2 separate regions of the Homo sapiens genome follow, and region 2 is linked to region 1. Evidence: fine-mapped expression QTL. A gene starts in region 1. The other region holds a variant in brackets. All regions are shown on one strand. Distances are from middle to middle. Region 1 holds the start of CMTM7 (CKLF like MARVEL transmembrane domain containing 7). Region 2 overlaps CMTM7 (CKLF like MARVEL transmembrane domain containing 7).

Evidence for each region. PIP is the estimated chance that this variant, and not a neighbour inherited with it, causes the effect. A credible set is the group of variants that fine-mapping cannot tell apart.
Region 2: its variant is the best candidate, but not a certain one, in a credible set for the expression of CMTM7 in whole blood (INTERVAL, PIP 0.86).

The regions. Positions count from the first base shown.
Region 1 is chr3:32,388,662-32,394,037 of GRCh38, reverse strand. CMTM7 (CKLF like MARVEL transmembrane domain containing 7) reads right to left here and starts at 2,185. Exons shown (of 5, transcript NM_138410.4): 1 at 1,973-2,185. The coding sequence starts at 2,131.
Region 2 is chr3:32,439,720-32,445,095 of GRCh38, reverse strand. It overlaps CMTM7 (CKLF like MARVEL transmembrane domain containing 7), which reads right to left. Exons shown (of 5, transcript NM_138410.4): 2 at 3,083-3,256. Among named protein-coding and RNA genes, the nearest start is that of CMTM7, 51 kb to the right of the region's middle. RefSeq lists a silencer at 1,245-1,539. The variant TTTTTTTTG/G (reference allele first, on the strand shown) is at 2,590.

The sequences.
Region 1 (5,376 bases):
GCATGGTTTTAAGAGGAGCACATAGAGAATAAGCAACCAGATAAAGAAATTATTCAAGTCTTTGTTCTCTTTTTTGGAACAACAGGCCCCACTCTTGCCACTTGCAAATTGGCCCAAGGACCACAGGCCAGAGGCTAGCTGAGGAGCTTAAGATGAGATGGAGATTTCTCATCTCCCAGTATCTTTATTCATCAAAATCATGGACCACATGAAGGCTTCTCATCTCCATTACCTTTTCTTTGTACCTTTTTTTTTTTTTTTTTTTGAGACAGGCCTCCCTCCGTCACGCAGACTAGTGCAGTGGCACAGTTCACTGACCTTCTCAGTTCAATCAATCCTCTCACCTCAGCCTCCCAAGTAACTGGGACTAGAGGCCCATGCCAACCACACAAGGTTTTAAAATTTTTTTTGTAGAGATGGGGTCTCGCTATGTTGCCGAGGTTTCATCTCCATTATGTTTGTGTACCAAACTCATAGACCAACAAGAAGACTTTTCATCCCACAATATCTTTGTCCAGCAAACTCAGGGGCCAAGATGGAGGCTTCTGATCCCATTCTCTGTCTACCAAACTCATCCCTTCCAATGCTCAGGTAGGATATGTCTCACCCCAGCCCATCTTTTAAGGATGGTGAGATGGGCTGGTCTCTTCTATTTGGCTGATCAAATCTCTTAGCCTGGGCCAAAAAATGCCCTGCTCAAACCCAACAATGCTCAGCACCAGATTTTTTTGTACGTTGCTGAAATGGCTCTTCCTAGTTTTTGGTCTATCTAGACACCGTTCTTAGGGAGGCAGGAACTCAGCGCCCCTTCTCTTTAGGTCTGGCCCAAGCAAGACATGAGGGCCACCTCATGCACACTCAGTGTCTGGAATGGCAGTGCTATAGATGCACAGACGTCCTGTGCCCAACCCCCTGGGGCCAGGCCACCTTAGCAGGCCCCAGCTTCTGGGTGTGTGACCTTGTCCAGCCCCACACTCCTTTCCCCACACCTCTTTTTGAAACTTACCGCTCCCCTCCCCACCGTTCTTGGTGCAAACATTACAATGGTGGAGACTCACAAACAGCCCAACCCAGTTTCAAAACACATCATACAAACGGAAAAGTTGTTTCAGATTACAAACTTTTAAAGAAGAAAAAAACGGGAGGGGAGAAAAGAAAAGAGTGGGGAACAAGAGAATCGGCCAGGCAACGTCTGCCCTGGTAGGAGGCCCTTGTGCTGAGTTGGTCACAATCCAAGCCCAGACACTCATCCTGCCTGGCTCCACGGGTGACTCCCATTCAACAGTCTGGCTCCCCTACATGAGTACCAGCCCCTGACAACAGGCCTTTCCCAACTGACCCCCTGCCCTCCAGAGCCCCCTGAGACCCGGGCCCTCCCTCGGAACTTGAGGGCGCAGGGGACCAGGACGGCCGTCTCAACGGTCCCAGTTCTTTTTCCCCACTATGGAACACAAGACCCTCTGACCTCCTCCTTCGAGCGAAACTGCACACAGAGCAGGGAAGCCCTGCCGCGCTGGGTTCGGAGGAAAGAGGAGGCCGTGGACGGGGAAGAGGTCGGGTTTCGCTCCCTCAGCGCCGCCGCCTGGGCGACTCTTCCACCCCCGGCTCGGGTTCGAAGCGGCGCGGCCCAGAGAAGAGGAAGAAAGACGAAAAGGAACTTTGCCCGTGGTTTCAGTCAGTAGGCGGGTCAGGCTTCGCAGGGGGGTGGCCGGAGAAACTTGCGACCCTGGCGACCTGGGTCCGCGGGAGCAAGGGCCGGGGCGGCTCTGGGGACTGAGCTCCAGCGCGGGGGCTGCGGCAGCAACTTTCCCGGAGGAAGCCTGCCGCGAACTTTAGCGACGCGGTGCCCCGCCCGCTGCGCGATGCTCCCTGGGCTCCGGCCGGGTCCAGACGCCCGGCGCGTCCGCTCCCGGACCCCTGCTTTCCCGGGACGCCCTGTAGAACCTCGGCCTCGCGCCCCGCGCTCACTTACCATTTGCGCCACTTTCAGCAGGGCCGCGTGGGTGCGGGGGTAGCTGAGGTCCAGCAGCCCCTCCAAGGGGCTCGCGCTGGGCTGGGCCGCGCCGGCCCCGGGTCCGAGCGCGCTGCCGCTGCTGCACGTGGTGCGGACGAGCCCGGCTCCGTGCGACATTGCGCGGCCCCAGCTCGCTGGCCGCCTCCCCGGGCAGCTGCCCAGGGGCCAGATACAGAGGGCGGGCCGGGGGCGGGCGGGGGCGGGCGCTGGCGAGGGCGGGGCGCCCGGGTCCCTGCCCCGCTGCTGGAGACGCGGAGCCGCCTCTGGCGGGATCCCTCCGGTGACTGGCCGGCCGGCGCCTTCCAGAAAGGTAGCGGCAGTCCCGGCCCTCGTAGATGCGCGGAAGTTAGACTGGAGCGAGAGGAAACCGGATGCCTTGGGTCGTGGCCTCTCCGAGGTGGGCAAGGCCCGGACCACAGCTGGTACTGAGCCTCCTGGGATTTTGTGTGGGTGCGGCTGCGGATGTGTGCTGAGAGCACTTTACTGAAGTTTAACTTACATAAAGTGTGATGCCCAGACCTTACGTGTTCAGCTCCACTAATTTTTATATATGTGTACACCTGTGTAACCGTCGCCCAGATCAACAAATAGAACGTGCCCATCACCCCAGAAAGTTCCGTGGTGGGCCTTCCTGACCTACCTTCCTTCCCTGGCCCCATCCTTATCCAGCCTCAGGCAACCACTACAGTGTATTCTGCTTTCTGTCACTGTAGGTTCATTTTGCCTGTTCTTGGACTTCATAAACTTGAAGTAATACAGAATATTCTCCTTCAACATAACAAATTAGAAGATCCATCCTGTTGGGAATATAAGTAGTTCATATCAGTTCCTTCCTTTTTATTGCTGAGTAGTACTCCACTGTGCAAAGATACCGTATTTTTTAAACGTTTACCCAGTTGATGGACACCAAGCTTGCTTCCTTCCTACCTGCTTGCCTGCCTCCTTCCCTCCTTCCGGCCTTTCCCCCCTCCCTCATCTCTTTTCTGGCTATAGTCACTATTATGGTACACGTTTTTTTGGTGGATACAAACTCTCATTTCTCTGGGACAAATATCTGCAAGTGAACGCACTGGTTACAAGGGGAGCATATGTTTGCTTCTGTTAGAAGCTGTCAGCCTGGGGAACATGGCCAGACCTCATTTCTACAAAAAACAAAAAATAAAAATAAATTAGCTGGGCCGGGCGCGGTGGCTCACGCCTGTAATTCCAGCACTTTGGGAGGCCGAGGCGGGCGGATCACGAGGTCAGGAGATCGAGACCATTCTGGCTAACACGGTGAAACCCCGTCTCTACTAAAAATACAAAAAATTAGCTGGGCGTGGTGGCGGGCGCCTGCAGTCACAGCTACTCGGGATGCTGAGAATGGCGTGAACCCGGGAGGCGGAGCTTGCAGTGAGCAGAGCTTGCGCCACTGCATTCGAGCCTGGGCGACAGAGCGAGACTCTGTCTCAAAATAAAAATAAAAATAAAAATAAATAAATAAATAAATTAGCTGGGTGCAGTGGCACATGCCTGTTCAGGAGGCTGAGTCTGGAGGAGCCTTGGAGCCCAGGAGGTTGAGGCTGCAGTGAGCCATGACAGTGGCATTGCACTCCAGCCTGGGCCACAGAGCAAGACCTTGTCTCAATTAAAAAAAAAAAAAAAGACAAGAAAAAGAAAAAGCTGTCAAACAGCTATCCAAGTGACATTCTATTCTGTATCCCTTTTGGGTTGTTTTAAAAATGAAGAGGCCAGGCGTGGTGGCTCACACCTATAATCCCAGCACTTTGGGAAGTCAAGGCATGAAGATCCCTGGAGGCCAGGAGTCCGAGATTGCAGTGAGCTATGATCTTGCCACCGCACTCTTGTCTGGGTGACAGAGTGAGACACTGTCTCTTAAAAAAAGAAAAAGAAAAAGAAAAGGAAAAAAACATAAAAATGAAGACAGGCCCAAACGGGACTACCAAAACGAGGTATGTTATCATGTTCCTTTTGAGCAGTGTCCCTGTGGCCATACTTACATTTATTCATTTGGAGATAACATCAAAAAATCTGGCTGGGCACGGTGGCTCATGTCTGTAATCCCAAAATCAAGCTCACAAGCCCAAGTTTGACACCAGCAAGGGCAACATGGAGAAACCCCATCTCTACAAAAAAATACAAAAATTAACTGGGCATGGTGGCACATGCCTGTAGTCCCAGCTACTCAGGAGGCTGAGGTGGGAGGATTGCTTGAGCCCGGGAGGTTGAAGCTGCAGTGAGTCATGATTACAACACTGTACTCCAGGCTGGGTGACAGAGCAAGACCCTGCCTCAAGAACAAAACAAAGCAAAGTGAAACATAAAACTATCTTTGTGAGTTTATTCCCTGCCAGTGCTGTCTTGTCATCAGAAGAGTTTTCGATGTGGCAAAGTCCTAATAATTCTTGTTGGTGGATGATACCCATGCAATATCTGTTTTGGCAAGTCTCTTAGGTGATTCTGATGCACACTCAAATTTGAGAACCACTGTCATTGCCAGAGTCCACTGCAGTTGAAACATTTGGGGATTTATTACACTATTTATTTCACCTTTATGTACATTTGACAATTTTCATGACCAAGAAAAATTGCCTTCCACGTGTGTCTTCTCTGTAGACAACAGTCACAGCTGCCTGGTACCTCCATTTGTTTCTCTGTAATTCAGGAATAATTGCATCTAGGGGCTGCTGTGACAATGTGATAGATATGCAGGTGTGCTGTGACATTTCTGGCTCTATACCCACAGGCATGAAGTTAGTACTGTGTATCATTTTTTTATGTAGATGTACATTTCACTTCTGTACTTGTCTAAGGCTTCAGGACCCACAGTGGAGATAACAGGGCATCTTTGTTGAGATGAGGGTTTCAGGGAAGCAGAAAAACCAAGTGCTGGATCATTTCTCCTTTGAGGGGCCTTTGTCCAATTCAGCAGTCTTCTAACAGTGATTTTCAGTGTATAGCCCCCCAACCAGCAGTACCTGCGAACTTGTGAGAAATGCAGATTCTAGGGGCCCACTCTGACCTGCTGAATCAGAAACTCTAGGGGTAGGGCTCAGCAGTGTGTGTCTTAACAAGTCTTCCCAACCCCACCCTCACTCCCCACCCCCCTTCACCATCATTCTGTGATTCTGATGCATACTCAAGTTTGAGAACAACTATCTCTTCCTGAGTCTGCTCAGAAACATTGCTGGGCTTTTCTGCCTGGTGTTGACTAATGCACCACCCACCTCTAATCAGAAGTAATCACTGTGCTGGGCACTCTGTGTTAATCACTTTATTATGATCACTTAAGAGCTTGAGCAAGATGCTTGCCAGTGCAAGGGCCATTGCTGGCCTGACTTACAAGAAGAGGCTTCAGAGGC
Region 2 (5,376 bases), 51 kb before region 1:
ATATATTAGAACTACTAAGTAGTTCAGCACAGTTGAGGACACAAATCAATATGCAAAAAGTAATTGGATTCCTATGCACTTGCAATGAACAATCTGGAAATAAAATTAAGAAAAAAATTGATTTAAAATAGCATCAAAAAGAATAAAATGCTCAGACACAAATTTAATTTAAAAAGTTCAGGCCAGGCACAGTGGCTCATGCCTGTAGTCCCAGCATTTTGGGAGGCTGAGGCAAGAGGATTGCTTGAGCCCAGGAGTTTGAGGATGCAGGGAGCTATGATCTTGCCACTGCACTCCAGCCTGGGTAACAGAGCAAGAACCTGTTTCAAACAAAGCAACAAACAAAAAACACTTTTACTCTGAAAACTACAAAACATTGAAAGAAATAACAGATTATCTAAAAAAATGGAAAAACTTCCCATGTTCATGGATAAGACAATATTATTAGGATAGCAATATTCTCCAAATTGATCTATGGATTCAACATAATTCCTATTATAATCCCAGCTGATTTTTGTAGAAATTGAAAACCCGATTCTAAAATTCACATGGAATTGTAACGATCCAAATCAATCCTAAAAAAGAAGAATAATTGGGAGGCTGCATATTTGCTAGTTTTACAACTTACTACAAGGCTACAGTAATCAAAATAGTGTGATAATGGCATAACGACAGACACATAGATCAATGGAATAGAATTGAGAGTCCAGAACTAAATCCATGTATTTAATGGTCAACTGATTTCAACAAGGGTGCCAATGCCATTCAATGGGGGAAAGAATAGTCTTTTCAACATATGATGCTGGGATAATTGGATATCTACATGCAATAGAATGAAATTGAACCCTTACCTCACACCCTATGCAAAAAACATTAACTCAAAATGGATCAAATACCTAAATGTATAAACTAAAACTATAAAACTCTTGGAAGAAAACATAGAAGTAAATTTTCACAATCTGAATTTGGAAATGGCTTCTTATATGTAAGAAAAGCGTGAGCTAAAAAAGAAAAAAAATAAATAAACTAAATTTATCAAAATTAAAAACTTGTGCTTTAAAGGACACCATCAAAAAAGTGAAAAACATCAGAATGGGAGAAAATATTTTCAAGTCATATAGCTGATAAGGGACTTTTATCCAGACTATAGAAGGAATTCTCACAACTCAATAATGAAAAGACAAATAACCTAATTAAAAAATAGGCAAAGGACTCGAATAGACATTTCTTCAAAGAAAATATACAAATGGCCAAAAGCACATGAAAAGATGATTAACATCATTAGTCACTGGAGAAATGAAAATCAAAACCACAGGAAATAACACTTTACACTCACTAGAATGGCTGGAATCAGAAAGTCAGATAATAAGTGTTGGCAAAGATGTTGTGAAACTGGAACCTTCATACACTCCTGGTGGGAATGTAAAACAGTGAGCCACTTTGGCATACAGTCTGGCGGTTCCTCAAACAATTAAACACAAAGTGACCATATGACTCAGTAATTCCCCTCCTAGATACATACCAGAGAAAAATGAAAATATGTCCACACAAAAAACTTGTATATGAATGCTCATAGCAGCATTATTCATAATAGCCAAAAGGTAAAAACAACCCAAAGGTCCACTGAAGATGAATGAAAAACAAAATGCAGTCTGGTCTATCCACACAATGGAATAAAATTTGGTTATAAAAAGGCTGGCATGGTGGCTCATGTCTGTAATCCCAGCACTTTGGGAGGCCAAAGTGGGAGGATTGCTTAAGGCCAGGAGTTTGAAACCAGCCTGGGCAACACAATGAAACCTCATCTCTGTAAAAAAAAAAACACAAAAATTATCCAGGTGTGGTGGCATGCACCTGTAGTCTCAGCTACTCGGGAGGCTGAGGTGGGAAGATCACCTGAGCCTGGGAGGTTGAGGCTGCAGTGAGTCGCGATCACGTCACTGCACTCTAGCCTGGGTGACAGAGTGAGACCCTGTCTCTAAAAAGAAAAAAAGGAATGAAATACTGATACCTGCTACAACATGGATGAACCATGAAAACATTCAGCTAAGTGAAAGATGCCAGTTACAAAAGACCACATATACAATTCCATTTACATGAGACGTTCAGAGTAGAAAAATTTTAGAGACAGAAGATTAGTGATTGCTTAGGACTGGAGGGATGAGTGGTAGGGAGGTGACAGCTAAAAGGTATGGAATTTCTTTCTGAAATGATGAAAATGTTCTCAAGTTGACTGTAGTAATGGTTGGACAACTCTGGAAATATACTAAACTCCATTGAATTGTACCCTTGAAATGGGTGAACAATACGGCATATGAACTGCATCTCAATGAAGCTTTAAAAAATAATACAGTGGGAAGAAAAAGTCTGGCAACTTCTGACTGTCTCCTCAGCCCCCACTAGTCTCTTTTAGCCAGAAAATCCTATCATTCAATCCTCACAACAGCATCAATACCCATCATCTTCACCTACAATTTCCTTCCGTGTTCCTTTTCCCAACTCATACACACACAGCCATTCTCTGTTGCTTGAGAAAGTAAGCATGGGGCAATAGCCACAGCCTTCTTCTTTTTTTTTTTTTTTTTTTTT[TTTTTTTTG/G]AGAGGAGTCTCGCTCTGTCACCCAGGCTGGAGTGCAGTGGCTCGATCTCGGCTCACTGCAAGCTCCGCCTCCCGGGTTCACGCCATTCTCCTGCCTCAGCCTCTCTGAGTAGCTGGGACTACAGGCACCCGCCACCACGCCCGGCTGATTTTTTGTATTTTTTAGTAGAGACGGGGTTTCACCGTGGTCTCGAACTCCTGACCTCGTGATCCGCCCGCCTCAGCCTCCCAAAGTGCTGGGATTACCAGCGTGAGCCACCGCGCCCGGCCAGCCACAGCCTTCTTGTAGCTGGAAAGTGAGTTTTAAAAACCAGCAGGACATCAAGCAGAGATGTCCACCAAACAATAGGAAATTCAGGGCAGAGGCAGCAAAGAATGGTTAAAGAGGTGAGATGGGCAGACGGGAAAAACTCTGTCAGGTCTCAGTACTCTAGCTAACATCCTGACTTGTGCATGCGGAGGACAGGGCCAGACCACTCTCTTACCGACAGGGGCCAGCTGATACAGGTGAGCACGCGGTAGAAGCGGAAGAGGTGGACCAGGTAAAAGGCGAGGATCATTATCAAGTCGCAAATGGTGACCACTTCAAAGTAGCTGTAGGCGCTGTAGTTGGTCCACAGGGAGCTCCGCACACAGATGAAGGCAATCAGCAGGGTGACCTGCCACATAAATAGAGACATCAGAGAAATGCTTGCCCAAGACGGGCACCCAGGGAACAAACAACGGAAAACAACCAAGCATCCCCCAGCAGGCCCACATTGAAGAACTGCTATTAATACAATTCAGGTTATTTCCATACACACTGGCTGGAAGGTTGGAAGACTGCAACTTCATGTGGTACACACTTTGAAACTACTGTCTGTGAACACTGATGACAGCAGAGACTGACTTCGTCCTCTCTGAAGTTTGTTAGATTGTGCCAGCGGGAAGCCCCCTCAGAAGAAGCAGGAAAACAAGAAAATAACAAAGCAGAACCATCCCTTTCATCTGCTGGATATCCATAGAGCAAAGAGGACAGCGTGATGGTGACCTGGGGTTTACATATTAGGCCCAATTGTACGAAGTTGCCAATATTTGATGGTTTTTGACCTACAAAGATGGTAATTCATACCTTACAGCTATCAACTGACAGATAACAAGTTACCATTTACTGATGTCTGACATACGTGATCTCGCTAAGGCCATGCAGAACCCTGCCAGGTAGACAAAATCATCCCCATGTTCATAAGGGGAAACGGAGGCATGCAGGTTCAATCATCAGTCCAAGGCTATCTGGCTTGTAAGCAGAAGTGGGATTTGAATCCAGGTCTGTCTGACTCTAAGGACCATGTTCCTCCATGTCAGATGCAGTTCTACCTCCCAAAAGTGTAAGCTCTGATCATAACAAGCCGAGAAAGGTGGACGGGTTCTCAACCATGCAGGAATCCTGTTTAAGAGGTGAGGCTGCTCACCATCAGGGCATGTGGTGAGAGCTCACTAAGAAATATCTCAGCACGAGTGAACATGCTTAACGGCCTGCTACTGAATTAATAACCAGATGAAAACTATTAGCAATGCATGAGTACAAGAAAGTAGAATGAGTAACAGTCTGAGCTTCCGTGAAGGCCAAAGAGAAAACCTGTCTACTCCATGTAGGGAACAAACCAGTAACACACGGGATTCAATGTGTGTAAAATCTTAGAATCTACTTATTTATTTAGTTATTTAGTTTTTGTTTTTCTGAGATAGAGTCTGGCTCTGTTCCCCAGGCAGGAGTGCAGTGAACCAATCTCAGCTCACTGCAACCTCTGCTTCCTGGGCTCAAGTCATCCTCCCACCTTAGCTTCTCAAGTAGCTAGGATTACAGGCGTGTGCCATCATGCCTGGCTAATTTTCATATTTGTAGTAGAGACGGGGTTTTGCCATGTGGCCCAGGCTGGTTTCAAACTCCTGAGCTCAAGCAATCCCCCTGCCTTGGCCTCCCAAAGTGCTGGGATTATGGACGTAAGCCATTGTTTCCAGCCAGGAATCTATTTAAAATGCACAACCAATTTAGAAAAAAGATTATTTTATACACTGCCTCTCTCCTATGGAGGAGTGATTCTTTTTTTTTTGAGATGGAGTCTCACTCTGTTGCCCAGGCTGGAGTGCAGTAGCATGATCTTGGCTCACTGCAACTCTGCCTACGAGATTCAAGCGATTCTCTTGCCTCAGCCTCCAGAGTAGCTGGGACTACAGGTATGCACCACCATGCCCAGCTAATTTTTGCATTTTTAGTAGAGAGGGGGTTCCACCATGTTGGCCAGACTGGTCTTAAACTCCTGAACTCAAGTAATCTGCCTGCCCCAGCTCCCCAAAGTGCTGTGATTACAGGTGTGAGCCACCACGCCTGGCCAGAGCAGCGAGTCTTAAAGTGTGTGTGTGTGTGTGTGTGTGTGTGTGTGTGTGTATGCGTGTGGTGTTAGTGTATGGGTGTGTTAGCGTATGGGTATATGATTTTGTGTCCTATGGGACATTTGGCAATGTGTGTATATATTTTTGGTTTACACAATTTGCGGGGATGGGGGTTGCTACTGGCATTTAGTGGGTAGAGGCCCAGGGTGCTGCTAAGCACCCTGCAATAAATAGGAGAGCTCCCATAGTAAAGAGTTACCCATCTCCAGCCCCAAATGTGGCCCCTCAACTACAGTACTACTGTTGAAAAATTCTGCTATAGAAAATGTCAGTCTACAATGAGAATTAAATCACAAAATGGGGCCTGGTGCATGCCTGGCATCCCAGGCTCACGCCTGCAATCCCA